4 linked regions of the Homo sapiens genome follow. The protein of the gene in region 4 interacts with the protein of the main gene of each other region in a biochemical or structural test. Each region holds a gene or a part of one and is shown on either strand. Other genes may lie near its edges.

Region 1 (7,403 bases), on a different chromosome or scaffold from region 4:
GTACAATACCAGGTGCTTTACATTTATCTCATTTAATTCTACTGACAACCAAAAAAATAATAATTCTCTTGAAAACCATATGTCATTACCTTCTTTACAGATGAAGAAAATAAAGAGAGAAGACAAGCAATTTTACAAGAAACATGCAACTGGTAATTAGCAGAAGCAGGATTTGAATCTAATTTTGTCTGATTCCAAGATCCACTCTTAATTACTATACCATTCTGCCTCTAAATTTACCTCAACAAAAATGGTGAGGAGAGTTCAGGCATGGTGGTTCATGCCTGTAATCTCAGCACTTTGGGAGGCCAAGGTGGGAGGATATATTGGAGCCAGGAGTTTGAGACCAGCCCTAGCAACACAGTGAGATCTCTACAAAAAGTAAAAAAAAAAATTCGCTGGGCATGGTGGCACACGCATGTGGTCCCAGCTACTTGAGAAGCTGAAGTACAGGATGGCTTGAGGCCAGCTCGAGGCTGCAGTGAGTTATGATCACACCACTGCCCTCCAGCCTGGGTGGATAAAAATAAAGGTATATAGGGAAGCAGATTCTACAATTTCCTTCAGTTACATACTCAACTTTAACCAACCTGGTTTTAAAGAAGTTCCTCCTTCTAACCAATAAATCCCACCCTCTATCCTGAGTCCACTTCCTCTTATTATGACTCTAGTGTAAAAGAGTAGGGTGAACACACACTACAATATGACTCTTTGTGCACTTAGTATTTCACTCACTTCCACTCTTTCCAGTCTGCTCTCCTTTATACTTGCATTCAGTATAATAATAGCAGCTACCATTCACTGGTACCAATTCTGTACCTGACACCACACATATACATATATTGGTCCCTCCTCCAAACTCTCCAGGATCCCAATTCATATATAACACTTTGAAAGACTTAGGTCTGATGGAGAGACCCCTTTGCCCACAATGGGGAAGCAGGAAATCTGGGACTGCAGATAATGACTCTGTGTTCTAGTAATATTTTTCTTTTTGGGTCTTAAGTTTCCATTATCTATGCCTATTCTGTGCCTCTTAGGAAGGCAGAGACACAAAAACTTCTTAATTACAAAGGCTAAGGGTCTTTGTACCCTTGCTAAGCTATTTCCAGGCACTTCTGCTGACAGCCAAGCCATCTCTTGCCCTTTCCTTAAACTACAGTTAGAAAGCTTGTTGAGTTCTATCTATTTACATTCTAAATTCATCATGGGTACCTACTGTTTGCATGGGCATTGTGGAAGAGGAGACGAAATCCAGTTCCTGCAGTCGAAAAGCGTCTAGTCTCTTTGGAAAAGCAAGATAGACAACTATAAAAATTCTAACTATGCAAGGTAATAATTCTATGCTGGGAAACAGGACGCATGTGAATATGTGATACATGGGAGCCTTTCCTGGCTGAATCCAAGGTCAATCATTCATTCGGTGAAAAGCTGAACCTTAATGGATTAGTTTCTTTCTTAGAATGAACTTTTACAGACATGTTTTTCAAACTCAAGTCCAATGGGCTATGATAATCCACTGTCCCATAACACTGTCCCATGTCCCAAGTCACGGCAAGTGGAAACACCTACCCCAACAACAAGCCCAAGACAAAATAGCAGCAAAGACTGTTACTACCTACCTGATTGAGGACAGGGAAGGAGGTATGCAGCGACTAGATTCTGTCCTGTTGCACTGACCCAAGCAATCAGACTCTTGCAGCAGATCTCCTCCCAATAAAACTTTCATGCCATAGACCAGGGGTGACCCAATCCAACAACAGCAGAGACAGGTTTTAGGTTACATTTCTCCCTCACCGGGACGGCCTTACTATTTCTTCTCACTCCTGACCACATACCACAATCCTCCACCTCCACCACCACATTCCTCCTGGCCTGGAAAGATGGAGACCCGCCTTAATGCAATCAAGACGGGAATTCCCCCAAAATAACAGCTACCACTTTGCTAATCAAGTGGCCCGTTTTAACAGGGAACTCCACCTCCCCAACTCCCGCCCCTTCCCTCAAACGATTCGCGTAAGCAATGGCTCCATTTTCTGTTCCGGGAATCCTGGTACTTCCTAAAGAAAGAAAGCGGATTGGAAGACACAAACTGAGGGCCAGTGACAAGATGCTCCCTCCTCCTGTGAGACCGCCCCCGCTCCGCCTGGGGAGGAAGGCCCCACCTCTCTTCTCCCAGGAAGATCAGATCCCCCTCCTCCTTCTCCTGCCTCCTCTCCACCCTCTCCCCACTTGCTGCCCTCTTCCCAACCTGCGGTTCCCTAGACTCGAAAGCGCAACCTCTACCACAATAGCGCCCATGTGGTGCCCCAGCAGCCTGCCCTGTTGGCTAACCCCCAACCCCCCTACGCACCCCTGCCCTATGATGGGGGAGGGGGTGTAACCACAGCAAGGCTTCTCTCCCGTCTCCTATTGCTAAGGTGGGGGAGGGAGAGGGAGTAGAAGAAAGCAGCATTCCCTAGCCCTTTAACAGAAAAGATACAAACAGCCATCACCGCCCCCTCATCACCTCTCCTCGGACGGTTTTCCTCTCCCTCAACAGCACACCTCCTGCAGGCGACAACCTAACTGCAGCCCAGGTCGCCCCCTTGAGCGAGGCGGAGGACAAATCCGTGTGCGCCCCCCACCCCCACCCCAGCTCTGCGTCCTTCAAATGCGGGGGCAGGCGTGAAGCTGGCCCGACGCACCCTCTCTGAGCTCTCGGGTGGGAAGAATCCCACCGCCCCACGCCAAGCAGTGCCGGGCGGGGCCCGGGAGGCGCTCTATCTCCTCAGCCCTCACCCTGACCGAGCCTCTTCTCTACCGGGACCCGCCTTCCCTTCCCAGCCTCTCACCTGTTCCTGCTATCAGCTGCGCCGCTGCGGCCGCCGCCTCTGCCCCGCAGGTTCCGCTCCGCTCCCTCTGGCTCCCCAAGCCGACTTCAGCCCGGCTGCTGCCCTGGCCCACTCCCCGGCTCCCTCCTTCCTTCCCTCCACCTAGCACCGGAAGCCGCGACGGCGACTGGAGCTGTGCGGCGTACCCCCACCCCCAGCCCGGGATACTTCCCACCTCCCCGATCGCGCGATAGCTGCGCGGTAGCTAGCGGCAGTTCTCGCGAGACCCATCACCATGGCAGCGGCTGCAGCACCGGCGGCCGGGCGCTGGAGCTGGAGTCAGGGCGGGGGCAGGTGTGGGGGCTGTGGGCGGCGGAGGCGGGAGCCGTGAATGGGGATGAGACAGTGAGGACTGAGGTGACAATCCCAAGCTCCAGGGTTGTGCCTGGAATTTAAGGACTGAGGCGGCAAGTTGGCTGCGTAGGAGACGGGCTGGGCTGCGGGGCCCAGGGGCTCCTTGGGCAAAGCCAGCATCGGGATATGGGTGAACAGTCGTTGCTGTGGCATGCCTTACCCAGCCAGACTTCATCTTTATTTCTTAATCTGGGCTAGCTGCCATCCCCTGAAAGCCCTCACCGCACCATTGTTGTTGCTCACTATTCCTGAGACTAGATTACTGTGGGGTCTGAATCAAGAGATCCTTTCCCATAAGGAAGAGGAAGGAGAGTGATGAACTTAAGAGGCTAAAGGAAAACAGCTGGACTCTGAGCCAGTTAAGTTGGAACTTGAAAGACGGAGAGTGGAAACCTAATATTCAGAAGTGTGGTTTGAGGAAGTGTGCCTAGATGAGTAGGGATTTTAGTATCCCAAGGAAAGGTGAAGGACTTTGCACCCATATTTCTTGCTTCCTACCCACTCCTACTTCCCTCACACTCCGTTTTGCACCTGGTCTAGACATGCAGAACTGCCTTGAAACAAAAATAGCTGTGATAGAAGGGCACTAGTAATGCTAAGAACAGAAGGTTCCTTTTTTTTTTTTTTTTTTTGAGACAAGAGTCTCACTCTGTCGCCCAGGCTGGAGTGCAATGGCACCATCTTGGCTCACTGCAACCTCTGCCTCCCGGGTTCAAGCGATTCTCCTGCCTCAGCCTCCTGAGTAGCTGGGATTACAGGCGTGAGCCACCGCGCCCGGCCAATAGAAGGTTCTCTAAGTGCCCTCTCTCCTCATTTACAGCAGTATAAGGGAATGAACACATGGCTCTTCCCTAAGGCTTGAGCCCAAATTGTTGCTCTTATGAATTTATTGCCTTGGTTGATTTTGTTTGTTTGTTTCCTTGCTTCCAAGAAGAACTAAGCTGGGGCCAGGCCCTGTGTTCACACTTGTAATCCCAGCACTTTGGCAGGCTGAAGTGGGCAGATCACTTAAGGTCAGGAGTTTGAGACCATCCTGGCCAATATGGTGAAACCCTGTCTCTACCAGAAAATACAAAAATTAGCCGGGCATGGTGGCACATACCTGTAATCCCAGCTACTTGAACTGAGGCCAGAGAATCGCTTGAACCTGGGAGGCGGAAGTTGCAGTGAGCCAAGATCGTACCACTGCACTCCAGCCTGGGCGACAGAGTAAGACTTTGTCTCAAAGAAAAAAAAAAAAAAAGCTGGTAGGTGCCATATATGTCGATCTCCTTGTCCTCATCAATCCCTGGTGTATGCACTTACAGTCCCTTAACCCAGTCTGTTCTCTCTCTTATGTTAACCTGATAACATGACCCTAGAATGTCAAGCTAAGGGGACCTTAATTTAAGATGGTAAGGGATGAGATGGATGACAAGGAACCTGTTTATAACAAGGAATTATATCTGTCCTGGGCACTGCTATTAAGGGCTGCTGCCCTGCTAATCTCTGTGGGTTGTTTTTGTTTTTGTGTGTGTGTTTGTTTGTTTGTTTGTTTGTTTGTTTTTGAGATGGAGTCTCGCTCTGTCACCCAGGCTGGAGTGCAGTGGTGCAATCTCAGCTCACTGCAACCTCCGCCTCCCAGGTTCAAGCGATTCTCCTGCCTCAGCCTCGCGAGTAGCTGGGACTACAGGTGTGTGCCACCATGCCCGGCCAATTTTTTGTTTTTTTAGTAGAGACAGGGTTTCACTGTGTTAGCCAGGATGATCTCAATCTCCTGACCTCGTGATCTGCCTGCCTCAGCCTCCCAAAGTGCTGGGATTACAGGCGTGAGCCACATCTCTGTGTTTTTTTAAGATACGGGGTCTCACTATGTTGCCCAGGCTGGAGTGCAGTGGCTATTCACAGGAGCGATCATAGCACACTTCAGTCTTGAATTCCTGGGTTCAAGTGATCCTCCTGTCTCAGCCTCATGAATAGCTGGGATTATAGACATGTGCCACTGTGCTGGGTAGTTCTGTCGGGTGTGTTTTTGTTGGTGGTTTTGTTTGTTTGTTTCTTGCTTTTTTTTTTTTTTCTGTTTTTGAAACTGGATCTTGGCCGGGAGCGGTGGCTCAAGCCTGTAATCCTAGCACTTTGGGAGGCCGAGGCAGGCGGATCACGAGTCACGAGGTCAGGAGATCGAGAACATCCTGGCTAACACGGTGAAACCCCGTCTCTACTAAAAATACAAAAAATTAGGCAGGCGTGGTGGCAGGCGCCTATAGTCCCAACTACTCCTGAGGCTGAGTCAGGAGAATGGCGTGAACCCGGGAGTTGGAGCTTGCAGTGAGCCGAGATCGCGCCACTGCACTCCAGCCGGGGCGATAGAGCAAGACTCCGTCTCAAAAAAAAAAAAAAGAAGAAAGAAAAAAAAAGAAACTGGGTCTTGCTGTGTTGCTGAGGCTGGAGTGTAGTGGCGCAATCGGCTCACTGCAGCCTCAACCTCCTGGGCTCAAGTGATCCTTACCACCTCAGCCTCCCAAGTAGCTGGGACTACAGGTGCACGCCACCATGCCTGGCTAATTTTTTTTTTTTTTTTTGAGACAGTTTCGCTCTTGTTGCCCAGGCTGGAGTGCAATGGCACAATCTCCGCTCACTGCAACCTCTGCCTCCTGTGTTCGGGTGACTCTCCTGTCTTAGCCTCCCAAGTAGCTGGGATTATAGGCATGTGCCACCACGCCCGGCTAATTTTTATATTTTTAGTAGAGACAGGGTTTCACTGTGTTGGTCAGGCTGGTCTTGAACTCCTGACCTCAGGTGATCCACCTGCCTCAGCCTCCCAAAGTGCTGGGATTACAGGCGTGAGCCACCATGCCCAGTCACCCAGCTAATTTTTATGCTATTTGTAGAGACAGGGTTTTGCCATGTTGCCCAGGCCAAACTCTTGAGCTCAAGCAGTCCTCCCATCTAGGCGTCCCAAAGTGTTGGGATTACAGGCATGAGCCACCGTGCCTAGCCCAGCTCTGTGTTTTTAAGGACAAAAGACACCTCCAGTATTTTGTTGTTGTTGTTCATGTCAAATGGATAGTGTGCCAATGTAACAAGGTTTGAGGGTGGCACATCTCACATGTGTGTAAGCACCCAGTCATTATGCTTATGAACTACAAAAGGATCTTCCTCCAGTATTATTACTCCTAGAGTGGGTTTTTTGATATTTCCATGTGATTACTCTTTCATTTATTTCTCTAGAAATTTCTAGTAACACTCCACCAGGTTATCCCACCATGCTGTCCACCAAAACTATGATTTATAAAACCTCCCTAGTGCCCTTACCACGTGCACATGCCTGTGGAACTCAGACAAGGAGGTGGAACCTGTTGATATTCCTGCCCAGTGCTTCAGATCTTCTCAAGGTTTTATCCCCAGTGCAATAGAAAGATGGAAATGGTGACAGTCTAATGTAGTAAGCAGCAGGTACCATGGTATGTCAGTCAGGACTGATTAATGGGACTAGAGAATCTCCCAGCGCTTCTGTCCTTCACCTGTCTGGAGTCTGAAGAAGAAAACGTCTGTTGCAGCATCAGAGTGCGCTGCCCATGGAGCAAACAGGAGCAGAGATAGGAGGAGTGCTGCCCAGCTGGCAATTAGCTGGCCACTGCCCCTCCCTAACTTCCCAGCCACTTGGTAAAGGCCAGCAGGAGTAGAACTCATCTGGAGCTGAAGAGGGACAAGAGGCCCGTCTTACAGTTCATCAGCCTTTCTCCCTCCCTCTGGCTGCCATTGGAGCCTAGTAAAAGCTGAAATTGTAGCCACCAGCTCTGTGGGTTGCATACTCCAACCCTGTCGCTGACCCCAGTGCATGTGCTAGGAGCAGGGATAGGGAGTGGCGAAGGGGTGTGTTGGCCTTGCTGACAAAATCCATTTGGAATTTGTCAAGGTTGTGGTTTGGGGCTTAAGTTTGCCACACAGTGTGTCTGATGAAGGAAGAGGGAACGCTAGAAAGGAAAGAGGGACCCAAAGTACAGAGGAAGGAAACAGGAAAAAGCTGAAATAATCATGCTGTGACTCTGTTAGAGATTCTCCTTCCTCGTCCTGAGTGTGAGAAGTTCTGATTATAAATATTCTTTATCATTATTCTCTTATATCCTATGCCCATTCTAAGTGCATCCCCTCTTCCTTCCACATACACTAGGTTCAGTAAGTGCCTGAAGTAAG
Region 2 (7,021 bases), on a different chromosome or scaffold from region 4:
CACTTGGGCCACAAAACCCAGCAACCCCCAGGGTCCTTGATGTGTATGTGGTAGGTAAGGATACTGGGTAAAGTCCTGGGAAAGCCTCCACAGAGAAGTCAGTGCAGACACCCAGCATTTGGGAGCAGGCCATGCCATCTACAGAACGGAAGCATAATGAGAGGGGCCAACCTACTTCCTGGCCCTGGTGGCAGCTGTGTGTGTCACCAAGAGACATCGCTGTCTATGACACCAAAGCATCTCCCCATAGTGATGTGCTGTCAGACCCACCACAGGCCCAGTGAACAATGGAAGGGGTACCTCTACGACCGAACCCAAGCATGTCTAGAGGACACAGCACACAACATGTGGCCCAATCCCCCATGACACGCACCTCTGTTGACCAATGACGTCCTCACCTCACTCCCGCCATCACTTCATGGGGATTCACTACAACTTAGGGGGAAACGCAGACCTGATTTGTGGATGGGTTGCTTGGTATACTGGTGCAGGCCTCACTACAGCCTCACATAGGAACAGCCTGAAAGACAGAGGTGGAGCAGAGCCCTGGGCAGGGTATCTGGTCAGCTCTGTGTGGGGGGGAAAACAAGTTGCCTGTGCTGAGGATAACAGGGTCCTAGGCAGGCACAAACGGCTGGTCAGGATCCTGGAGGGAACAAGGTCTAGGTGAGAGGCAGACAGATGGGCCTTGGGAACAGGCATGGGGTACAGGCCTTTGTTTTGCAAACCAATGCTCACCATGGGGCACTAAAAACCAAGCACTGGGATAAGTCGACCAACAGATATTGGCTAGCCTCTGTCCTCACCAGCCCCAGTGTCCACACAGCAGACCTCTGGATAGGGTGACCATCGTGGCCAAGAGCCTCTCAGCAGCATGATCCAGTCATGACCACTGACGATTATCTACCGGGAATGAACAGACAGCAACACTGGGCTTCCATCTGGTGCCATGCCTTGGGGCTGTCAACCAGCCACCTAGTGGTAAGCTGATTATATCAGAACACCCTCTCCTGGAAAGGGCAGTGATTTGTCTCATCTGGGATCCACCCACATCCCAGGTGTGGGTTTGCCTTTCCTTGTGCAGTACCGTGCCGGCACTAACATCTCAGAGATTTACCAACACAGGATTCCATATAACATCAGCTTGGAGCACACGCAGGGGATGCATGTGAGCCAGGTGACCGCGGGGTCCACTGGATCATCTAACGCAACACCACTTAGGAGACGCTGCCCTGACCTTAAAGGCAGAGATAAAATGCCGGCTTGGTGATACACTTCATGGGGTTGGGGTGCCATATTTCAAGATGAACCAACGGCCAATCGATGGTACTGGGTGCCCAATCAGTAAAATGTATGGATGGAGGAAATGGTGAAAGAAGAAGGGGCCTGTCTCACCATCGCTCCAGAAACCCAGTATGAACTCTGCGCTCATCTTCCCCAATTTTAGGTCTGGCAAATCTAGAGGCCCTGGTTCAAACAGGTGGAGAAGGCTTCTACCACACAACACCAAAGCCATGGTGGCCACCTGGTCACTTGGGGCTGCTCGTGCCAGAAGGCCAGCAGGCATCACAAAGAGTTTCCATGCCAGCCAGATCATCTGACCCTCATTACTGTGAAGGGCAGAGCTGCCACTGCATAATTCTGGGAATCAGGGGCTTCACTGGGCCTTTCTCCATGCTCCTATGAACACGCTCCTGTGCGCAGTCTTCACTGCGACTGGATTACCACGGCAGCCAGGGTTGGAAAAAGAACGGCAACAAGTAGGGACTTGGGATGCGCAGGGCTGAGGGTCTGGGTCATCCCACCAGGCCAGCAACCAGTGCAGCAGAAGGCTGGCCACAGGACAGGGGCTCTAGAAAGGGTGGTGGGGACGGGATGATGAACATCAGCTCAGGGGCTCTAGAAAGGGTGGGGGGAACGGGATGATGAACACCAGCTCTGCTTGGACCAGCACAGCAGACGGAGCTCCGCTCTGTCTCCCAGAGACCATGACCAGCACCATCCTAAAGAATGAGCACAGTGAACCCAATGTGAAGTGTGGGCAGAACAGGAAGGAGCCTGGTGCTCCAGCAGGTTCTCCTCTGATGGTGTCAGACGTCCCTTCAGCCCTAACAGCTTGGGTGCAGCACTCGTGGCACACTCAGGGAGCTGGAAGCATCTGAGAATTGACACCCCAGGTGCAGCCCTCAGCCTAATGCCGTGCGGAGGGTGCAGAGGCAAACACGTTGCAGCTCCCTTTCCAGCAGGGATAGCTCTGAGGTGCGACCTACGCTGCTGCCAGAAGTCCCTTGGGAGATGACCCACACTGACCCACCAGGACTTGGCTTGGGACGCAGGATTTCTGGTCCTTCTCTTCCCACCCATTTCCCCATGCCCCTCTGCTGGTTTCTACTGGGAACATAACTTAAGAAATAAATTTCACATGAGTGCTCGTGTCTGCGTCTGCTTCTCGAGAATTCAACCTAAGACCAAACAAATGAGATTTTCTGCCATTGATTTCCAGTGTAATGTGTTGTACTCAAAGAATGTTGCTTTATGATTCAGATGCTTTGAAATTTGTTGAGACAAGTTTATATCCCAGCACTGGTCAATTTTAAGACATAATCCACATATGTTTGGTAAGAATGAGTATTTCCAGATATATATAGAGAGAGATAGAGAGACGGTGGGGGGCAATATTTTGAAATATAAATCCTTACTGGTTTCAGTTTATATATTTTTGATACCACCTTGTTAGATACATATTATACAGATACAAATTTAAGATTCACATCTTCTTGATTAGTTGTTACCATGGAGCTCCAGGTAACTCTCAGGCCAGCAGCCCAAAAGATCTTTGAGAACCACTTTCTTATTCAAGAAAGAACATCTGCTGAGGTAACACCCAATCCCTAAACTCCACCCCTGGAGCGAAGCCTCCACATGTCCAGGGGGTTCTGCGGAACCCAGGAAGAGGCTAACACAGGGCCTGGAGATGCACTGAGGGGAGCAGGCTCTAGAAGGAAACCACCTGGGGACCCTGAAGGAGGGACAGAAATGCTACTTACCGCAATCTCTGTTACTAAAATATCAGTAATACTTCCCAACACAGTGACAAAGTCAAAGACATTCCAGGCATCTCTGAAATAGTTCTAGAGAAAAAGAAGAGCAGTTAGTGCCAGCGGCTGATGAGGGCTCTGTTGGCAAAGAGGTATATATAGGTGGTGGCCCTGATTAAGAAAGCGGTGAGGGTGATAGACCCTGAGCACAGGGCAGACAGGCCACCCCAGGGGGCACAGCACAAGGCCAGAGGTAAGCAGATGTCAAAGCCAGGGACACAGATACCTCTGGGCCTGGGCAGAGGCAGGACTAAGAGCCATGTGTCCAAAGAGGAAGAACCCAGCCCTGCCTCCCTCCCAGGACCTAGGCTGGGGGCAGAGCTTATGTAGCCAAGAGTCTCAGAACAGCCCCTTCCCCAGGGCCCCTGTAGCATTACATATACTCTGGGTACTCGGAGAATTCCCAGCTCCAAATTGTGAGCCCCCAAAGGTCGCCCTACAGATGGGGAACCAGAATATAGGTTGTCAAAAGGCAAAGCAGGGACCAAAGCACGTACCAGCACCCCAAAGGCGATGATCTTCAGCACGCATTCCATGGAGAACATGGATGTGAACACGATGTTCAGGCATTTCAGCATCAGCTCGTACTCATAGGGTGCATCATAGAACTGCCCGGGGAATAGGCACTGTTGGCCATGGGTTTGGCAGCCCCAAGACACCCCATCTGGGACCACTATGACCAAGCAAAGCGGGCAGACAGAACTCGATGCCTGCCTAGGCCTGGGACACCCCTTCCTGCTCTCCCCGAGTCCTCCCAGAACCTCCCCACTGTCCCAGCCCACAGACAACAAAGGGAAACAGGATTCCACAGGCATCCCATGCTGGCCAGGATGCAAGGCCACTACTGCTTTGGCTCATGCAGGGAGGAAGAAGGCTGACTCTCCACTCAGCCTCAGGGTTAGATCCCAATCCCTAGCAGCGCCAGCTGCCCCTCTGCGCTGAGCCCCACACACCTTCATCATCAGCACCACAGTGTTGAGGGCTATCATGGCCATGATGAAGTATTCAAAGGGCGGGGAGACCACAAATGTCCACGTCTTATACTGGAACGACTGCCGGTTTTGGGGCATGTACCGTGTCAGGGGTTTGGCGCTGATGGCGAAGTCAATGCAAGCCCTCTGTAAGGGGAGAAAGGAGCACAGAGACTCAGAAGCAGAAAACCTACCCGACGGCATCTACTGCACCCAGCCCTGTCTCGCCAGGCCTCACAGGGAGCCCTGACAACAGAAGACAAATTGAAGCAGCCCAGACCTTCTCCAAGCAGGCCTCAACCAGCCAAATCCGGTCCCTCTGCAGGAGAAAGGAGGACCTGCCCCTGTGTTGGCAGACGGTGGCAGCCAAAGCTGACCCAGCTGTGAGTGATTTGTGTGCAGGAGGGAAGCCTGATGGCGCTGCCCACGCTGTCCACTGCAAGACTCCACAGAGCGTCCACCTACCTCGTTCTTCTCCAGGCTGCATTCAGACATCACCTTGTCCCCCTGCTCCTGGAAGGTGATGATGATCAAAGCCACAAAGATGTTGACGAAGAAGAAGGGAAAGACCACAAAGTAGACCACGTAGAAGATGGACAGCTCCATGCGGTACCCAGGGCTTGGACCCTGCTCCTCATAGGTGGCATCCACGGAGTGTTTCAGCACCCTGGGCAAAGAGGAGAGCAAGTGTCAGGGGAACCCCCAAAGGAGACAGCCCTAAGAACTCAAGACCTGCACCACAAGGGTGGGTCTGCTTCCATGCCTGAGCCCAGGGATAGAGGGAGGAAGGGAGGCCGAGCTCAGGGGCTGCCTGCCCCAGCTACGGAGAGCAGGATGAGCACTCACATGGGCCAGCCTTCTCCCGTGGACACTGTGAACAGCGTCAGCAGAGCCCAGAGCACATTGTCGTAGTGAAAGTCGTATTTCTTCCACTGCCTGGGCTGAGCTTCCACTTCCTCCTTCTCATAATCCAAATACTGACCCCTAGGAATGAGAACATGGGAGGTTAGAGGGCAAAGACAAAAGATCCAAATAAACCCACCTATCAAGAGTGTTGAAACCATTCCGTGGGGAAAGAATGGCCTCTCCAACAGACTGTGCTGGGAAAACTGGATGTCCACATGCAGAAGAATGAATGTGACCCTACTTTACTCCATAGACAAAAATTAACTCATGATGGATTCCAGACCTAAGTGTAAGGAGCTAAAACTATAAAACACTTAGAGGAAAACGGGGGCAAAACTTCGTGACCTCGAATCTGGGAATGGAGCCTTAGATGTGACACCAAAATCATGAGCAACAGAATAAAAAATACAGATAAATCAGGCCGCATCAAATCGGACACTTCTGTGCTCAGAGGACGCCGAGAACGTAAAGAGACAAATCCACAGAATGGGAAAAATACTTATTTCCTAATCCTCTGTCTGATAAGGGAGTTGTATTTAGAATATGTAAATAACTATTCTAATAAATAAAAAAGGCCGGGCGCGGTGGCTCACGCCTGTAATCCCAGCACTTTGGGAGGCCGAGGCGGGCGGATCACGAGGTCAGGAGATGGAGACCATCCTGGCTAACATGGTGAACCCCCGTCTCTACTAAAAATACAAAAATAATTAGCCGGGCGTGGTGGCGGGCGCCTATAGTCCCAGCTACTCGGGAGGCTGAGGCAGGAGAATGGCGTGAACCCGGGAGGTGGAGCCTGCAGTGAGCCGAGATCGCGCCACTGCACTCCAGCCTGGGCAACAGAGCGAGACTCCGTCTCAAAAAAAAAAAAAAAAAAAACCCAAATAAAAAATGGGTAAAGGATCTGAATAGACACTCCTCCAAAGAAGATATACAAATGGCTATTAAGCACATGAAACGCTGCTCAACACCACTCATCATCAGGGAAAGGCAAATAAAAACCACCACGAGACACCACTTCATGCCCATGATGATGGCTGTAGTTTAAAAAATACCAAAACTAAAAAGATGGAAAACCACAAGTGTTGGCAAGGATATGGGGAATTCAGAACCCTCATGCATTGCTGGTGGGAATATACAATGCTTTAGCCACTTTGGAAACAGTCTGGCATTTCCTCAAACAGTTAAACACAGAGTTACCCAATCACTCATTAATTCCACTTTTAGGTACACACCCATGAGAAGCAAAAACAGACCCACACAAAAATGTGGACATAAATGTATACAACAGCATCATTTATAACAGCCACAAGGTAGAAACAACCCAATGTTCATCAGCAAATGAAAGAATAAGGAAAATGTGGCACAGCACAGAACACATATTCAGCCGTAACAAGGAACAAGGCTCTGACACAAGCCACTGCGTGGACAAACCTGAAAACATCACACGAAAGAAGCTACTCACAAAAGACCACATATTGTATCATTCAATTTACAAAAAGTGTCCAGAACAGAGAGGTTTACAGAGATTAAAAACAGATTCATAGTTGGCTAGGGGTGGGACAGGGATGTAGGGGATGATAGTTAAACGGTGCGGGTTTTTCTTTTTTTTTGAGGTGCTGAAAATGTGTTCTAAAATTGACTGTGGCGATGCTTGCATGTACCTGTAAATAGACTAAAAGCCACTTAATTGCACACTGTAAGTGGATTGTTATGAACAAGCAGTATAATGTGTTAGTTACATCTCAATAAAGCTGTTTTTTTGTTTCTGTTTTTGTTTTTTTTTTGAGACAGAGTCTTACACTGTCGCCCGGGCTGGAGTGCAGTGGCACAATCTTGGCTCACTGCAACCTCCGCCTTCCAGGTTCAAGCGATTCGCCTGCCTCAGCCTCCTGAGCAGCTGGGATTACAGGTGCTGGCCACCATACCCAGCTAATTTTTTGTAGTTTTAGTAGAGACAGGGTTTCACTATTTTGACCAGGCTGGTCTCCAACTCCTGACCTCATGATCCACCCACCTCAGCCTCCCAAAGTGCTGGGATTACAGGCG
Region 3 (7,021 bases), on a different chromosome or scaffold from region 4:
GCATTTCGAAGCCACTTAATACATAAAATTCACTGTTACTTTTCCATTTGCACATAGGCTTAGTGAGACCTCCCCTCACCATCCTATTTGAAATAATTTCTCTTCCTGAACCCCTAAATCCTGTTTCCCTGCAACACTTTTTCTTTTTGCATAGCACTTAGCCCATTCTAACATGCCTTGTTGTTTACTTATTGAATTGTTTATCGTCTGTTTCCCCTCAGTAGAACATATGCCCCAAGATGGAAGGGTATCTGCTTTGCATATGTTTCCCGTCACCAGCACACCAGAGGCATGCCAGTATTGTGTGATTGAATGAATGAATGGGTGGATGGATAACAGCATTTCAGTTTAGACAGCGTAGTAGCTTTGCATCCTAATTTTCACTTTACAGATAAATGCTATATACTGAAAAAAATTACATAGTGTAAAGCAAACTTAAGTTTTTTTTTTGTTTGTTTTTGTTTTTGTGACAGAGTCTCATTCTGTCACCCAGGCTGGAGTGCAATGGCGCGATCTTGTCTCACTGCAACCTCCGCCTCCCGGGTTCAAGAGATTCTTCTGCCTCAGCCTCACCAGTAGCTGGGACTACAGGCATATGCCATCACACTGGGCTCATTTTTGTATTTTTAGTAGAGACAGGGTTTCACCATGTTGGCCAGGCTGGTCTGAACTTCTGACCTCAAGTGATCCGCCTGCCTCTGCCTCCCACAGTGCTGAGATTACAGGTGTGAGCCACTGCACCCGGCCCAAACTTAAATTCTGCAGTGTCGATATGGGAATTCATTAGTGGGTAAATTTTCAAGGATCATGGGGCCAGCCTCGGTGGCTCACCCCTGTAATTCCAGCACTTTGGGAGAACTAGGCAGGCAGATTGTTTGAGCCCAGGAGTTTGAGACTAGCCTGGGCAACATGGTGAAACCTTGTCACTACAAAAATACCAAAAAAAAAAAAAAAGTTCAAGGATCAATTCTGTTGGTTGCAGTATTGGGGATATTAGATCATGAAACTCTGTCTCAGCCTTTGAAGGCTGTAGCTCTGTGGCTACCCCTGTTAGTCCCTTTAAAAATACTATAATTTTCAGCTTTTTTGGGAAGATGGTTTCTTAATTTGTTACCTCGTTTTTTCAGAAGTAACGATGTGGAAAAAAGTCGTTCGAATATAGACCTCAGTATTACCCATAGTCTAACATTTTTAATACTGAAAGTAAATAACATTTATTTCTCAAAGGAGACCTATAACTGCTGAAGAAATAATAAAATACGAACAATTTTGAATATATTCCAATTTTAGAGCATTCACTCGGTTAACTGGAACCTTCAGTTAGCTGGAATTCGTCCTTTGGCTGGATATTTCTTTTGGGAGAAAAAGCATGAAACCAAGCAGTTTTATAGGAATTATTTTTCAAAAGGAAGGTTTAGGAGGTCATAACATACATTATCTGTGCCAGTATTTGATATTCAAGCCAAAAACGCAAATAATATTTCAGTTTTAGTTATGAAGAATATGACCAAAAAATGAAATTTTTGTGGGATATAAAATATTACATTGAAAATAGAAAATGCTGTAATTTCGTAACACTAGCTGCAGGACTTAGTGAAGCTTATTAAACCAAGTCTAAATGTTTAAAATGAGGAAGCTGAGATAGGTTAAAATTTTAGAACAAAGGAAAAAAAGTACTGAGTTATTTTTATTATTGCTTTCTGAGACAGGAAAGTATGTTTTTTAATTTTTTTGGGTAGTTTTCATTTATAAGAGTTGAAACAAAATAGAGATCTGATTATCCTAAAAAACCGCCAAGAGTCTATTTCTTATGTATTCTGGTTGAGGGCTTAGATCATTAAAACTTGTTTTTTTAGTGGGTCTTAATTTGGTGTGAAGACTTGCTTGAAGGGGCCGGGTGCGGTGGCTCACACCTGTAATCCCAGCATTTTGGGAGGCCAATGTGGGTGGATCACGAGGTCAGGAGATCAAGACCATCCTGGCTAACACGGTGAAACCCCATCTGTCTCTACTAAAAAAAAATACAAAAAATTAGCCAGGCGTGGTGGCAGGTGCCTGTAGTCCCAGCTATTCGGGAGGCTGAGGCAGGAGAATGGCGTGAACCCGGGAGGTGGAGCTTGCAGTGAGCCGAGATCGCGCCACTGCACTCCAGCCTGGGCGACAGAGTGAGACTCCGTCTCAAAAAAAAAAAAAAAAAAAAAAAAAAAGAGTTGCTTGAAGAAATATGTCTTTATAAGTGAAATTTAAAATGTTGATTTGCTACAAAATACGGATTTTAGTAGTGTTTCAGGACTACAGATTCAAGATTGGTGGAAATTATTTATGCAATGTCATGTTCGTGCATTAAAAAACAACCAAGGCCTGGCGCGGTGGCTCATGCCTGTAATCCCAGCACTTTGGGAGGCCAAGGTGGGTGGATCATGAGGTCAAGAGATGGAGACCATCCTGGCCAACATGATGAAACCCTGTCTCTACTAAAAATACAAAAATTAGCTGGGCATGGTGGCATGCATCTGTAGTCCCAGCTACTTGGGAGGCTGAGGCAAGAGAATTGCTTGAACTCGGGAGGCGGAGGTTGTAGTGAGCCGAGATCACACCGCCGCACTCCAGCCTGGCGACAGAGTGAGACTCAGTCTCAGGAAAAAACAAAAACAAAAACAAAAAAAAACCCAAACGGCCAGGCATGGTAGCTGACACCTGTAATCCCAGTGCTTTGGGAGGCCAAGATGGGTGAACTGCTTGAGTCCAGGAGTTCGAGACCAGCCTGTGCAACATGGTGAAACCCCATCTCTACTAAAAATACAAAACAATTAGCTGGGCATGGTGGCATATGCCTGTAGTCCCAGCTACTCAGGAGGCTGAGGCTGGAGAACTGATTGAGCCTGGCAGGTTGAGGCTGCAGTGAGCCAAGGTCACACCACTTGCATTCCAGCCTGAGCGACAGAGCAAGACTCTGTCTCTAAAAAAAAAAAAAAAAAAAAGCCAAACTAACAGACCCTCAAAAGTGACATTTTGAGGCTATGCAAAGGCCATATATAGGAACCCTTAAATGGCGACAGCCTCCCCACTGTGTCAGCCTGACATACAATACCCGTCTTTTCCCTAAGAGCTGCCACCACCCGGGAACTAGAATGCTGCTTTCAGTTGTCCCTGATTTGATAGGTTCTTTCTCTCCTATGTTTTAGGTATATTTTTGCTCATTTTTTGATTTAGCTTTAGGATATTATTATTAGATTAAAAATTTTCACAAGATCTGTTACTAAAGTTTTTATTTTTAAAGATTCTTGGCAGAGATTCACGTACTTCAAAGTAGCAGAGTTTAAAGCAGCTTAAATGCCTATAAAACATCTGAAAGTTGGCTGGGTGCAGTGGCTCACAACTGTAATCCCAGCACTTTGGGAGGCCGAGGCAGGCGGATCACCTTAGGTCAGGAGTTCGGGACCAGCCTGACCAACATGGAGAAACCCCATCTCTACTAAAAAATATAAAATTAGCCGGGTGTGGTGGCGCATGCCTGTAATCCCAGCTACTCGGGAGGCTGAGGCAGGAGAATTGCTTGAACCCAGGAGGTGGAGGTTGCGGTGAGCCGAGATGGTGCCATTGCACTCCAGCCTGGGCAACAAGAGCAAAACTCCGTCTCAAAAAAAGAAAAAAATCTGAAAGCTTCCTTCCCATTCCGGAACCCCAATAAGAAGTATGTGATAGCATATCAAAAGAAGAGTCATGTTTTTTCTTTTTTACTTCTTTGGTCAGACATGAATCATTATCTTAAAAAGAATTAATAGAAGTGGCGTCTCACTGTGTTGCTCAGGCTGGTCTCGAACTCCTGGACTCAATCAGTCCTCCCACCTCATCCTCTCAAAGAGCCGAGATTATAGGTATGAGCTACCGCACCTGGCCGAAGAATCATCTTTCAGCCATCTGTTTCGTTCTGTCTGATTCTCCCATGACAAGAACTTCTGTTGAGTCTGCTACTTTTCAAGCCTACCTTGATCTGTACTTTCTCTGAGTCATTGTGTAGGACAAAGGAGGACCACCGGCTGGGTGCGGTGGCTCACGTCTGTAATCCTAGCACTTCGGGAGGCCGAGGTGGGCGGATCATCTGAGGTTGGGAGAAAGAGACCAGCCTGACCAATGTGGAGAAACCCCATCTCTACTAAAAAATACAAAATTAGCTGGGCGTGGTGGCACATGCCTGTAATCCCAGCTACTTGGGAGGCTGAGGCAGGAGAATTGCTTGAACCCAGGGGGCGGAGGTTGCAGTGAGTCGAGATCACACCATTGCACTCCAGCCTGGGCAACAAGAGCAAAACTCCATCTCAAAAAAAAAGACCACTTTTGTCATGCCACTGCACTCCAGCCTGGGTGACAGAGCAAGACTTTGTCTCAAACAAACAAACAAAAAAACCCACCTTTTTCTGCATCCACTCCTTTTTTTTTTTTTTTTTAAAGCAGCTTTATTGAGGTATAGTTCACATACCATAAAATTCAACCTTTTAAGGCATACAATTCAGTGATTTTAGTATATTTACAAAGTTGCACAACCATCACCACTATCTAATTTCAGAACACTTTCATCACTCCCAAAAGAAATCCCATATCTGTTAGCAATCATTCTCCATCTCCCTCCTCCTCTCCTCCTCCCTTGGCAACCCCTAGTCTATTTTCTGTCTATGGATTTGCTTATTTTGGACATTTCACATCAATGGAATCATACGTGGCCTTTTGTGACTAGCTTCTTTTGCTTAATATGATGTCTTCAAGGTTCATCCATGTTGTAGCATGTATCAGGACTTCGTTTCTTTTCATAGGTAAATAATATATCCTTGTAGGGATATAACACATTCTGTTTATCCATTTATTCACTGATGGACATTTGGGTTATTTCCACTTTGTAGCTAATTTTGGAAAATATTACTATGAACATTTTTGTACAGGAATTTGTGTGGACATATGTTTTCATTTCTCTTGGGTGTATACCCAAGTGGAATTGTTGGGTCTTAGGGTAACTCTTAGATTTAACTTTTTAAATTAAAAAAATTTTTTTTTGAGGTAGAGTCTCACTCTGTCACCCAGGCTGGAGTGCAGTGATGTTATCTTGGCTCACTGCAGCCTCCGCCTCCTGGGTTCAAGAGATTCTCCTGCCTCAGCCTCCCGAGTAGCTGGGATTACAGGTGCCTGCCACCATGCCCGGCTGATTTTTGTATTTTTAGTAGAGACGGGGTTTCACCATGTTGGCCAGGCTGGTCTCCAACTCCTGACCTCAAGTGATCCAGCTGCTTTGGCCTTCCAAAGTGCCGGGATTACAGGCGTGAGCACTATGCCCGGCCTGTGTTTTTAACATTTTGAGGAACTACCAGTTGGTTGTACAAAGTGGCTGCACCATCCTGTATCCACTTGACCTCCATAGTCACTCACAGGAGCATTTTTCGAATCAAATACACATTTCACAGTTTTCTAGTTTGTTAGAATTTTAAGTTGAATTTTTCCTAGTCTAGGTGCAAACCGGCATTTCATCCAACCAATTCCTTCCTTTGCCATTGTCTCTCATATAATTTCTACTCTGGACTTTAGACTTTGAGTTGAAAGGAACTTTGAAAGTTCTTTCCTCTATACTTTAAATAGCCTTCCCTGTAAAACAGACATTTCCTCATATGTTCTTGTGTGTTGATCATTCAGCCTCTGTTTGAACTCTGCTGCTGTGGGGCTCTTGGTAGCTCACAGAGCAACCCTTTTCTTAAAAACATTGAGCCTTTGGTCAGCTTTCCTGAGGACTAAATTTTATCACGCCTTTGTATTTTTGCAGGCATCCAAGCCTACAGTCTGTTGTTTTTACCACCTCACACATTAAGAGAGACTGAGAGCACTGAGGCCTAGGCCTTGATTTCTGTAGATTTCTTAGGAAATCTGAGCCTAGCACAGGGCTACACATGCAGTGTTTGGGGGACAGCCACCCAGACACATGCAGAGTCAATATCCTGGTTCCAGGAGCAGGGCTTAACTTAATGAAAGGGACTGGAAAAAACACGAGAATTTTCAAACTACAACTAGTTTAGAAAAGTGACATTTTTCTTTTTTTTTTTTTGAGACAGGATCTTGCTCTGTTGCCCAGGCTGGAGTGCAGTGGCACAATCACAGCTCACTGCAGCCTCAACCTCCCTTGGCTTAAACTATCCTTCCACCTCAGCCTCCTGAGTAGGTGTGCACACCGCCATGCCTGGCTAATTTTAAAATTTTTGTAGAGACGGGATCTTCCTATGTTGCCCAGGCTGGTCTCGAACTTTTGGGCTCAAGCATTCTGCCCTTTTTGGCCCTCCAAAGTGCTGCGATTATAGGCGTGAGCCACCATGTCCAGCTGACATTTCTTCATTCATTACATTTTTGTTATGCTAGTTGGCTAAAAATGTGCTTTGTTAAAAAGTAAATTATTTTTTCTAGTCCTTTGATTTTATTTAACTATTCCTCAATTACCCAATCTTCAAACATATAAAATGCTTAGAAATATGTCTTTAGATTCAAAGTGAATTTTAAAACTCAGTAAAAATGAATATCTTCTTTGTTTACATACTTAAAGTATAGCAAAGAAATTTTTATTCAAGCTGGAGTGCAGTGGCACGATCTCAGCTCACTGCAATCTCCGTCCTCCCAAGGTTCAAGCGATCTGCCCATTTCAGCCCCCTGAATAGCTGGAACTACAGACACACACCACCATGCCTGGCTTTTTTTTTTTTTTTTTTGGTAGAGATGGGGTTTTACCATATTGCCCAGATTGGTCTCAAACTCCTGGACTCAAGCAATCTCCCTGCCTCAGCCTCCCAAAGTGCTAGGATTACAAGCATGAGCCACCATGCTCAGCCTAACATTTTTCTTTCTTTTTTTTTTTGAGACAGTGTCTCGCTCTGTCACCCAGGCTGGTGTGCAATGGCGTGATCTTGGCTCACTGCAAGCTCCTTCTCCCAGGTTCATGCCATTCTCCTGCCTCAGCCTCCTGAGTAGCTGGAACTACAGGTGCCTGCCACTG
Region 4 (7,921 bases):
CCATGCTGTCTCTGTGTCTTCCAAAATAAAGCAGTGGGTCTTGGAAAAACCTATTAGAGTGTGATCTGGTTAGTGATTTTTCCACTGACTTAAATCCTGAAGGCAAGAAAATCAGACTCCCACAGGGGTGTTTAGCATTTCCTTCTTACACACCCTGGACCTTGGGGATTTTCTAGGCCAACTTCCTCACCGAAACCCAGGAGGAAACTGTACCGTGGAGGCCCCAGCTGATTTACTTGAGTCCCCCCGCCTGGCTGGTGCCTTAGCTGGGACCAGAATGTAGGCCTCTTGACTCTTGGTTCAGGCCACTTTAGACTCCACAAGGATAAAATGAGCAGTCAGCAGGAGGAGCCTAAGAGCTTGATATTCCCAGGCCCAACAAGGCCTGTGCCAAGCAGTAACTTTATGAGAAGGAAGTTATTCTGCCATCCCCACAGAGAGAGGACATGTCTTTATTAATTAAGCACATTTTTACAGTCAGCCAAAGAGTGAAGGAAAAATTAGTATTCTGTCATTTGGAAGTTTTGTAAAGGAACATCTTGTTCAGCTTATAAAACAATGCATTAATCTTCTGTCCTATATAGGAAAGTCATATGTTATTTTTAAAAAATAAGTTAGGGTGTGAGGAGGTGACAAGTTTCCAACTCCACTTGGTAACACCTTGTAGGAAATCTGGCCTGGTCCAGGAGCCCCTCTAGGCTGAATGGTATCGGCATTAAGCATGCAATTCATGTATGCTGTCACTAAGTGGTGGTAGGGATCACAGCCATGTGGTCCAAACATATAGTCACAGACCTTCCTTGTTCTTCTTTTTCCCCCTAAAACAATAGACAAAAGATTTCAGAGATCTTTTACCCTCCAAAGGGTTAAAAACCAGGGTTAAGAATGATAATTACATTTTTTTTTCAGAGATAGATAATATCATATACTTCAAAAATTAAAAATTGGCCAGGTGCGGTGGCTCATGCCTGTAATCCCAGAACTTTGGGAGGCCGAGGCAGGCAGATCACGAGGTCAGGAGATCGAGACCATCCTGGCTAACACAGTGAAACCCCGTCTCTACTAAAAAATACAAAAAATTAGCCGGGCATGGTGGCGGGCGTCTGTAGTCCCAGCTACTCTGGAGGCTGAGGCAGGAGAATGGCGTGAACCCAGGAGGCGGAGCTTGCAGTGAGCCAAGACAGAGCTACTGCACTCCAGCCTGGGTGACAGAGCGAGACTCTGTCTCAAAAAAAAAAAAAAAAAAGAAAAAGTAAAGGAAAAGGAAAATCACTGAAAAGTTTTCCTGTCACCCCCGCCCCAGACACTACTTTCTTTCCCAAGGGTGACAACATTTTTCAGTTTACTGTGATCCTTCCAGAAAGGCTTTATTATTGTATATGAGCATCTATAGGCTCACCCTTTTTTCCTTTTTGCTTTTTTTACTCACATGGTGGCATACTACACACATCTTCTGCCCTTTGTTCTTTCACTTAACAATTATCTTGGAGAACTTCCCATGTTAATTTATCATGCGTTTCTTCCTTCTTTTATGGCTGCATTCTATTTCAGTGTTGGGAAGTGCCCTCATGCATTGAACAGTGCCCTTTTCATGGGTATCAAGATTGTCTGCAGTCACTTACTACAGAAACATAGCACCATGAATGATTCTACTCATGCCTGTTTTGCACGTGTGATATACAAGTCAAAAAATTCCTAGAAGTGAATTCTTAGGTCAAAGAGCTTGTGCATTTGTAATTTTGATAGACATCATCTGATTTTCCTACACAGAAGTTGTACTGATTTACACTCCCATGGGCAGTGTGGGTATCTGCCAGTTTCCTCTTGCTTTCTGGAATATATTGTATTACTGAACTCCTGGGTCTCTGATCAGTGAACACAATGACATCTCAGCATAGTTTTAATTTGCATTTCTTTTTCTTTTTTTGAGATGGAGTCTCACTCTGTTGCCCAGGCTCAAGTGCAGTGGTGCGATCTCAGCTCACTGCAACCTTTGCCTCCCAGGTTCAAGCGATTCTCCTGCCTCAGCCTCCCAAGTAGCTGGGATTACCGGTGCTCACCACCATGCCCAACTAATTTTTGTATTTCTAGTAGAGACGGGGTTTCACCGTGTTGGCCAGGCTTGTCTCAAACTCCTGACCTCAAGTGATCCACCTGCCTCGGCCTCCCAAAGTGTTGGGATTACAGGTGTGAGCCACCATGCCTGGCTTAATTTGCATTTCTTATTATGAATAAGGGAGGACAGCTTTTCAGATGTTTAAAAGTCATTTGTATTTCCTTCCCTGTGAATTGTCTGCTTCTTACCCTTTACCTGTTTCTTTGTCTTTTCTGTTAAGAGACAGTCTCATACTGCTGCCCAGGCTTAGTGCATTGGGATGATCATAGTTCACTGCAGCCTGGAACTCCTGGGCTTAAGTGATCCTCCTGTCTCAGCCTCCTGAGTAGCTGGGATTACAGGTGTGAGCCAAGGTGGGGGCCTGGTGATGATCCGTGATGCCTTCTTTTGATTTTTTTTTTCTTATCAATTTCTAGATGCTATCTATGTGTTAGGGAAATTAGCTGCTTGTGATATGAATTGCAAATAATTTTTTCCCCTTTGTTGTAGACTTTGCTTATGGTAGTGATTGCCATGCCAGAGTTTCTTTGAAGTCAAACTTAGCTGTTTTTTTGTTACCACTTTTTGATTTTGTTGCATACTTAGAAAGGCCTTTCCCATTCCAAGATACTTTTTTTTTTTAAATTTAAAATTTTAAGTTCCCAGATACAAGTACAGAACGTGTAGGTTTGTTACATGGGTATATGTGTGCCATGGTGGTCTGCTGCACCTATCAACCTGTCATCTAGGTTTTAAGCCTCACATGCACTAACTGTTTGTCCTAATGATTCTTCAAAAATTCTCTGAATACTGGCAGTTGGCTCAAGCTCACCAGATTTAGGAGTCCTGAGTGAGGCTGGGGGCAGGCCTGTACCTTTATTTTTAAATTTATTTAATTTATTTCATTTTTTAAAATGATAGGGTCTTGTTCTGTCACCAAGGCTGGAGTGCAGTGGCACGATCACAACTCACTGCAGTCTTGAACTCCTGGGCTCAAGCGAGCCTCCTGCTTCAGCTTCCCAAAGTATTGGGATTATAGGTGGGAGCCACTGTTCTTGGCCCTAGGCCTATACCTTTCATCTTGTGGACTGAGGACTTCAGCCACTATCACTCCCGGGTGCTGCGATGGGGTTTAATTTCCAGTGACTGGCCCAGAGCCTGCTCATGGGAAGATCTCAAGGGAGGCTGTTGAAGGAACAGCATGCAACTTACCGGCCCACACACGTTCACACAGATGGGGGTGGGGGTTTGAGGAGGTGGGGGGTGTTGTGTGGATCAGCTTCAGGCACAGGTGTCTGGTTTCCTATGGGATGTGACCACATAACAGTAAGGCAAGAAGATGACTGCATTTATCTTCTCAGAATCACTTCTTCTTAATTGTTGCTTCCCACTATTGGCATTGGTGAAAGGCTGGGCCACAGGAGGCTGGATGAACTTTGTGTTAGCCAGGTAAGCAGAATGTCTATGCAGGTGGAAAGTAGACAGTGAAGGTGTGCTCATCTGAGTACGGAGGGGCATAGGTCAGGAACCTCGTTGGCCTGCCCTGGCCTTTGCCCCTTTGTTTGGCCCTGTGGCTACAAAGCTCCCCTACCAGGAGCAGCCCCCACTGGCGGCTCTGGCCCTGGAAACCTGTGAATGTTTGGTGGGGGCAGGGTGTGGAGAGGCCAAGTCCACAGTGTATCTAACCCTAGTCCATCTCAGGATTCGGCTTCCCCCAGCCCCTTCTCCTTAGGGTCTCAGCTCGGGCCCTCAGGGCAGCAGGAAGATGCGCTGTCCTCACTCCCAAGTCCCCCTGCCCTTCTGTGCCTTCTGACCTGGGCAGAACTTCCCATGCCACAGCTTCGCCTAATCCAGCCACAGGAGAAAAGAAAACGAGGGCAAATCACCACGATTTGGGGGGAGGGAGGCCCCTGAGCCCCCGCTCTGCCCAGACAAGGCATCCTGTGCATCTCCCATGGCTCATCACATCTGCCTGGGACTCAGTGAAAGGGCCAGAGGGCCAAAGGTGACACCGGAGTCTCCAGCACGACCTTCGAGGGCCTCCAGGGCATTTCTCGCGCTGTAGGGGCGGAAGACTGGCTCCCCTGGGGATGCATGTGAGTGTCTAGGAGTGTACGCTCCCCAGGGCCCCGCGGAGGTCAGGGTTCTCTCCATTTAGGACAGCAAGGAGAGAAAGCCCTGGAGTGAGGCCCTGGGGCTGGGGGCTAAAGCAGCACAGAGTATCAGAAACGGGGTGCTGGGATGGTTACCGGGGACCGCCAGGGAAGACTTGGGAGTCCAGCATGCGCCTAGGGGAGCTGCGGTGGGGAGGCAGCAGGGGGCCTCCTCTGCCGGATGGGGCCTTCGGAGGCCGCGATCCCCGAGAGTTCTTCGCTCGAGGGTTCTTCGCTCTAGGGTCCCCCATTACAGCTGCGCGGGGCCGAGCAAGCAGGGCGCGGCGGCCGGGGCAAGGTGCGGAGCCTCGCGTTCACCGGCTCTACCTGCGGAGCCTCGCGTTCACTGGCTCTACCTGCGGGACCAGACCCCTGCAGCTCCCCAGCCAGCACGGCCGGGGCACGCCCGGGAATCTGTGTGCTCCCCAGGGCCCGGGGCGTTCGGGGCGCCGCGCCTTCCAGCGCCTGGGTCCCAGCCCCGATCCCGGAGACCGGCCCGGGGGGACCCGGGGTCCCGAGTGCACCCTCCTGCCCTGCAGACTGTCCCAGCGCCGGGGCCAGGGGGCGCAGGACCTCGCGCACGCCCGGCACGGACGCATCTTTGTCTTCCCTCTCTTCACGGCGCGCGATCTAGCCGGGAATCGTTTTCCGGCCCCAGTGTGCCCGGCGCGGGTGAGGCGGAAGCGGCCGGGGCGGGGGCGCAGGCCCGGCAGCCGCAGGCCGGTGCGGGATGCGCCCCGCAGCCGCGCCGCGTGCGCCCGGCAGAGGCGGCCCTGCGTGCCGTACGCTGCGTCCGGGGCGCGCCCGCCGCTATTCGGGAAGCTATTCAGCTTCCCGGGCTCATTAGCAGTCGCGGTGTGCGGCTCGGCGCGGGCTCACAAAGAGCTCGGCCTCGCGGACTGAGCCGGCGGCAGCGGGGCGGGGACGGCGGCGTACCCGGGCAGCCCAGCGCCCTGGCCAGGTAAGCTGGGGAACCTGGGCTGCCTGACTTGCCGGCGGCGGCAGCCTGGGGCCGCCCGGGGCGCCGCGAGGACCCGGACGCGTGGGGGGCGGCGCGGAGGTTGCGGCCCGAGCGCTCCAGAGCGCTGCCCTCCCGACTCAGCGTGGCTGCGGGGCGGCCGCCGCTGGGATATGGGGGTACAGCCCGGCGGCCCCACTCCTCTCTGACCGGCCGCTTCCCCCTCCCACGACGGGTGGGCGGGCGGGGCGGGGACCAGGCGGCGGCTCTCGCATCCCGCGCGGGGGGCACCGCGGCAAGGGGCCACCCGGCGCGGACAAGAGGCGCTGTGTGGCGGGGCTGTCCGCTCGACTCCTGCCGGGCTGGCCGGGCTGCTTGGCACCGGCATCAAGTCCCCGTGCCGGGCGGCAACTACTGAGTTTGGGGTCGCCTCTGGGTTCGCTGCCCCCAGAGAACCCAAGCCCAGATCTTCGCCCCCTTCCCTTTCCCTTTATAATAAGGCCCAGAGGGGAAAACTTATCAATTCAAAACCCCACACCCCGTTGCTCCTGGGCTGCAGGTGCCCGGTTGGGGGCACGGCGCGGACCTGCCCCTCGGCCTGGCCCCTTCCCCATGGCAGGCACTGCCTGGCAAGGCTGCTGGCGGGAGATCTGGCTGCAGATGGTGAAGGAGAACATCGAGGCCCCCGGTCCCCAAGCAGGGCGCCATGGGCCGGGCAGCGGGCCTCGGTGTGCCCAGGCGGGGAGGGGGCGAACTTCCTTTCTCCGACGCCTGCCGAGGACCGCCGTGGAGAGCAGAGCCTTAGAGGGGCCTGCTAGTCTTAACTTCGTATTTACTGGCAGAAGGAAGGCTTAATTTTTCAGATCTATTCAGATACGACCTGGCAGGCACCAGACATAAATCTGTGGTTGAGTGCAGTCAGCTCCTAAATGGGCATGTGGAGGGTGAGGCACCCCGAACTCGGCATCTTGCGTCTGGCACTGTTTTTGGGCTAAACTGCCTCTGGCCTCTTCAACCTCCTGTGCCTCTTTCTGTTTTTGTTTTTGTTTTATTTTTCTGTTTTCCTTCCTCTTTGAGAAAGGACAGTGATTTTAGAAATAATGACCCGAGAGCTTTGCAGGTTGAAGTGGGACGAGTTTTCCTAAGGTGCAGGTTGGCAGGTGCCAGGAGCCTGCAGGTGGCTTTTTCTCAGGCCTCTGGGTCAGGGTCCCTCCAATGAGGTGAGGCAGGGGTTTCTCCTGTGTGTCGCCACTACGCAGGGGACAGGATCTGGGTTTCCCAGTCCAGGGCGTCCAGGATGCCCTGCCCTCTGTGCTGATTCCTGGGTGACCGTGGGGGCTGCTTCCCCCTGCAGCCTGGGCTGGAGAGGGTCTCCTGAGCTTAGGATCTGCCAGGCAGGAGGGCCAGGGTGACACGGACCTGGAACGCTGGGGCTCCAGGCAATGTCCAGGGCGTGAGTGGGTAAAGCTGGAGCTTGTGGCTGTGTGCCGGCAGCCTTCCCTCGGTGGGCTCTAGCAGCACTGTCAGGGGGGCCCTTGGAGTGGGCTCCATGGCTGGGCTGGGACTGGGTGATGGCATTAGCGATGGGGCACCGAGTCTTCCCTCTTATTTATTAGGAAGTGTGGTCTGTGCCCCTCCCTACTGCCGGTCTCCTGGGCTCCTGGGATGGGAGGAGCTGCAGGCTGAGTCCCACGGGGTGTGAGTGTGTGTGAGCAGGAGAGTTGGGTGGGCGCTGGAAGGAGGTGAAACTGGTGACCGTCAGCTCCTCATTCTCTTCCACCTTGCATGTTTTCTCTGACACCCTAGACTCAAGTTGTGGCCTGCTAGTTAACTTGTTTACAAAACCTTTTTAAGTAGTTCTAACCTCTTTTTTTCAACAAAATGTTAGTTTTACAGGCATAATTGGTGGGGATGGATTGTGAAATGGAGGTGCATAAATACCTAGTTTGCCAACTGAGCTAAGAAATACTGGATAAAAATAAGAGATAATTGTAAAAGACACTGATCACACCCCTGGAAGCTGAGAGGGGTGATAAGACACCTTGATTTTTCCTAGACAAAACTGAGGAAGTCAGAGGAAAAACAGTTGATGGTGAGGTTGGCATCAGGCTGGGCTTTGTTTGGATTGGGCGGCGGTGGCTGTGGTGAGGGCTGTTGGAGTGGGGAGAGTGGGGGTTGAGCCTGGCTTCAGAGACCCCCTCGAGGCCTCAGCTCCTCTCCGGCGCTCCTGGCTGTCCTCTGCCACGCATACCTGCCCCGGTGACTCAACAGGTGTGGGCCTCAGGTGACACCATGGTCCGAAGTCGTGGAGAAACCTTTACTGTCCAGGGGAGGAGAGGACTGGCGGTCGGTGGGGATCGAGACCCAGCACACATCACTGGGTGGCTCGAATGTCTTCGGCAGAGATCACATGCCCTGCCTTGCAGCCTGGTCCTTAGAGAATGGGGAGAGTGGAGAGAGCTCTGGGCCTGGGTGGCGGGCGGTCCTGGCTGTATCACTCACAGGCTGCGTGCCCTCCCCATGCAGTCTCAGTTCCTCACCCTTGCCAGGTGGCTGTGAGGACTGGGAACGTGGAGGCACAGGTAGGATGTAAGGTAGCCACTGACCACCAGGCAGGCCTCCCCGATGTAGGTCAAGTTTGAGATGGTTGCTCACCAGGAGGCAGCCTGTGTGCCCGGTGGGGGCTGGGGGTGAAGTTTGAGAGGGTTGCTCACC

What was found.
Region 1: the proteins of APBA2 (region 4) and ARF3 form a complex in vitro, tested with the Homo sapiens proteins (one study listed by BioGRID).
Region 2: the proteins of APBA2 (region 4) and CACNA1B interact in a biophysical measurement, tested with the Homo sapiens proteins (one study listed by IntAct).
Region 3: the proteins of APBA2 (region 4) and CLSTN1 interact in a biophysical measurement, tested with the Homo sapiens proteins (one study listed by IntAct).

Annotation. Positions count from the first base shown.
Region 1 is NC_000012.12:48,954,476-48,961,878, forward strand, and holds the start of ARF3 (ADP-ribosylation factor 3), read right to left. Parts: upstream 3,013-7,403; 5' UTR 2,835-3,012; exon of another isoform or gene 1,623-2,834; intron 1,286-1,622; exon of another isoform or gene 1,220-1,285; intron 1-1,219.
Region 2 is NC_000009.12:138,055,764-138,062,784, reverse strand, and holds part of CACNA1B (voltage-dependent N-type calcium channel subunit alpha-1B), read right to left. Parts: intron 5,054-7,021; coding exon 4,916-5,053; intron 4,737-4,915; coding exon 4,535-4,736; intron 4,217-4,534; coding exon 4,052-4,216; intron 3,707-4,051; coding exon 3,596-3,706; intron 3,132-3,595; coding exon 3,048-3,131; intron 1-3,047. UniProt on the Homo sapiens protein: Voltage-sensitive calcium channels (VSCC) mediate the entry of calcium ions into excitable cells and are also involved in a variety of calcium-dependent processes, including muscle contraction, hormone or neurotransmitter release, gene expression, cell motility, cell division and cell death.
Region 3 is NC_000001.11:9,813,964-9,820,984, reverse strand, and holds part of CLSTN1 (calsyntenin-1 isoform 1 precursor), read left to right. Parts: intron 1-7,021. UniProt on the Homo sapiens protein: Postsynaptic adhesion molecule that binds to presynaptic neurexins to mediate both excitatory and inhibitory synapse formation.
Region 4 is NC_000015.10:28,881,070-28,888,990, forward strand, and holds the start of APBA2 (amyloid-beta A4 precursor protein-binding family A member 2), read left to right. Parts: upstream 1-4,904; 5' UTR 4,905-5,209; intron 5,210-7,921. UniProt on the Homo sapiens protein: Putative function in synaptic vesicle exocytosis by binding to STXBP1, an essential component of the synaptic vesicle exocytotic machinery. May modulate processing of the amyloid-beta precursor protein (APP) and hence formation of APP-beta.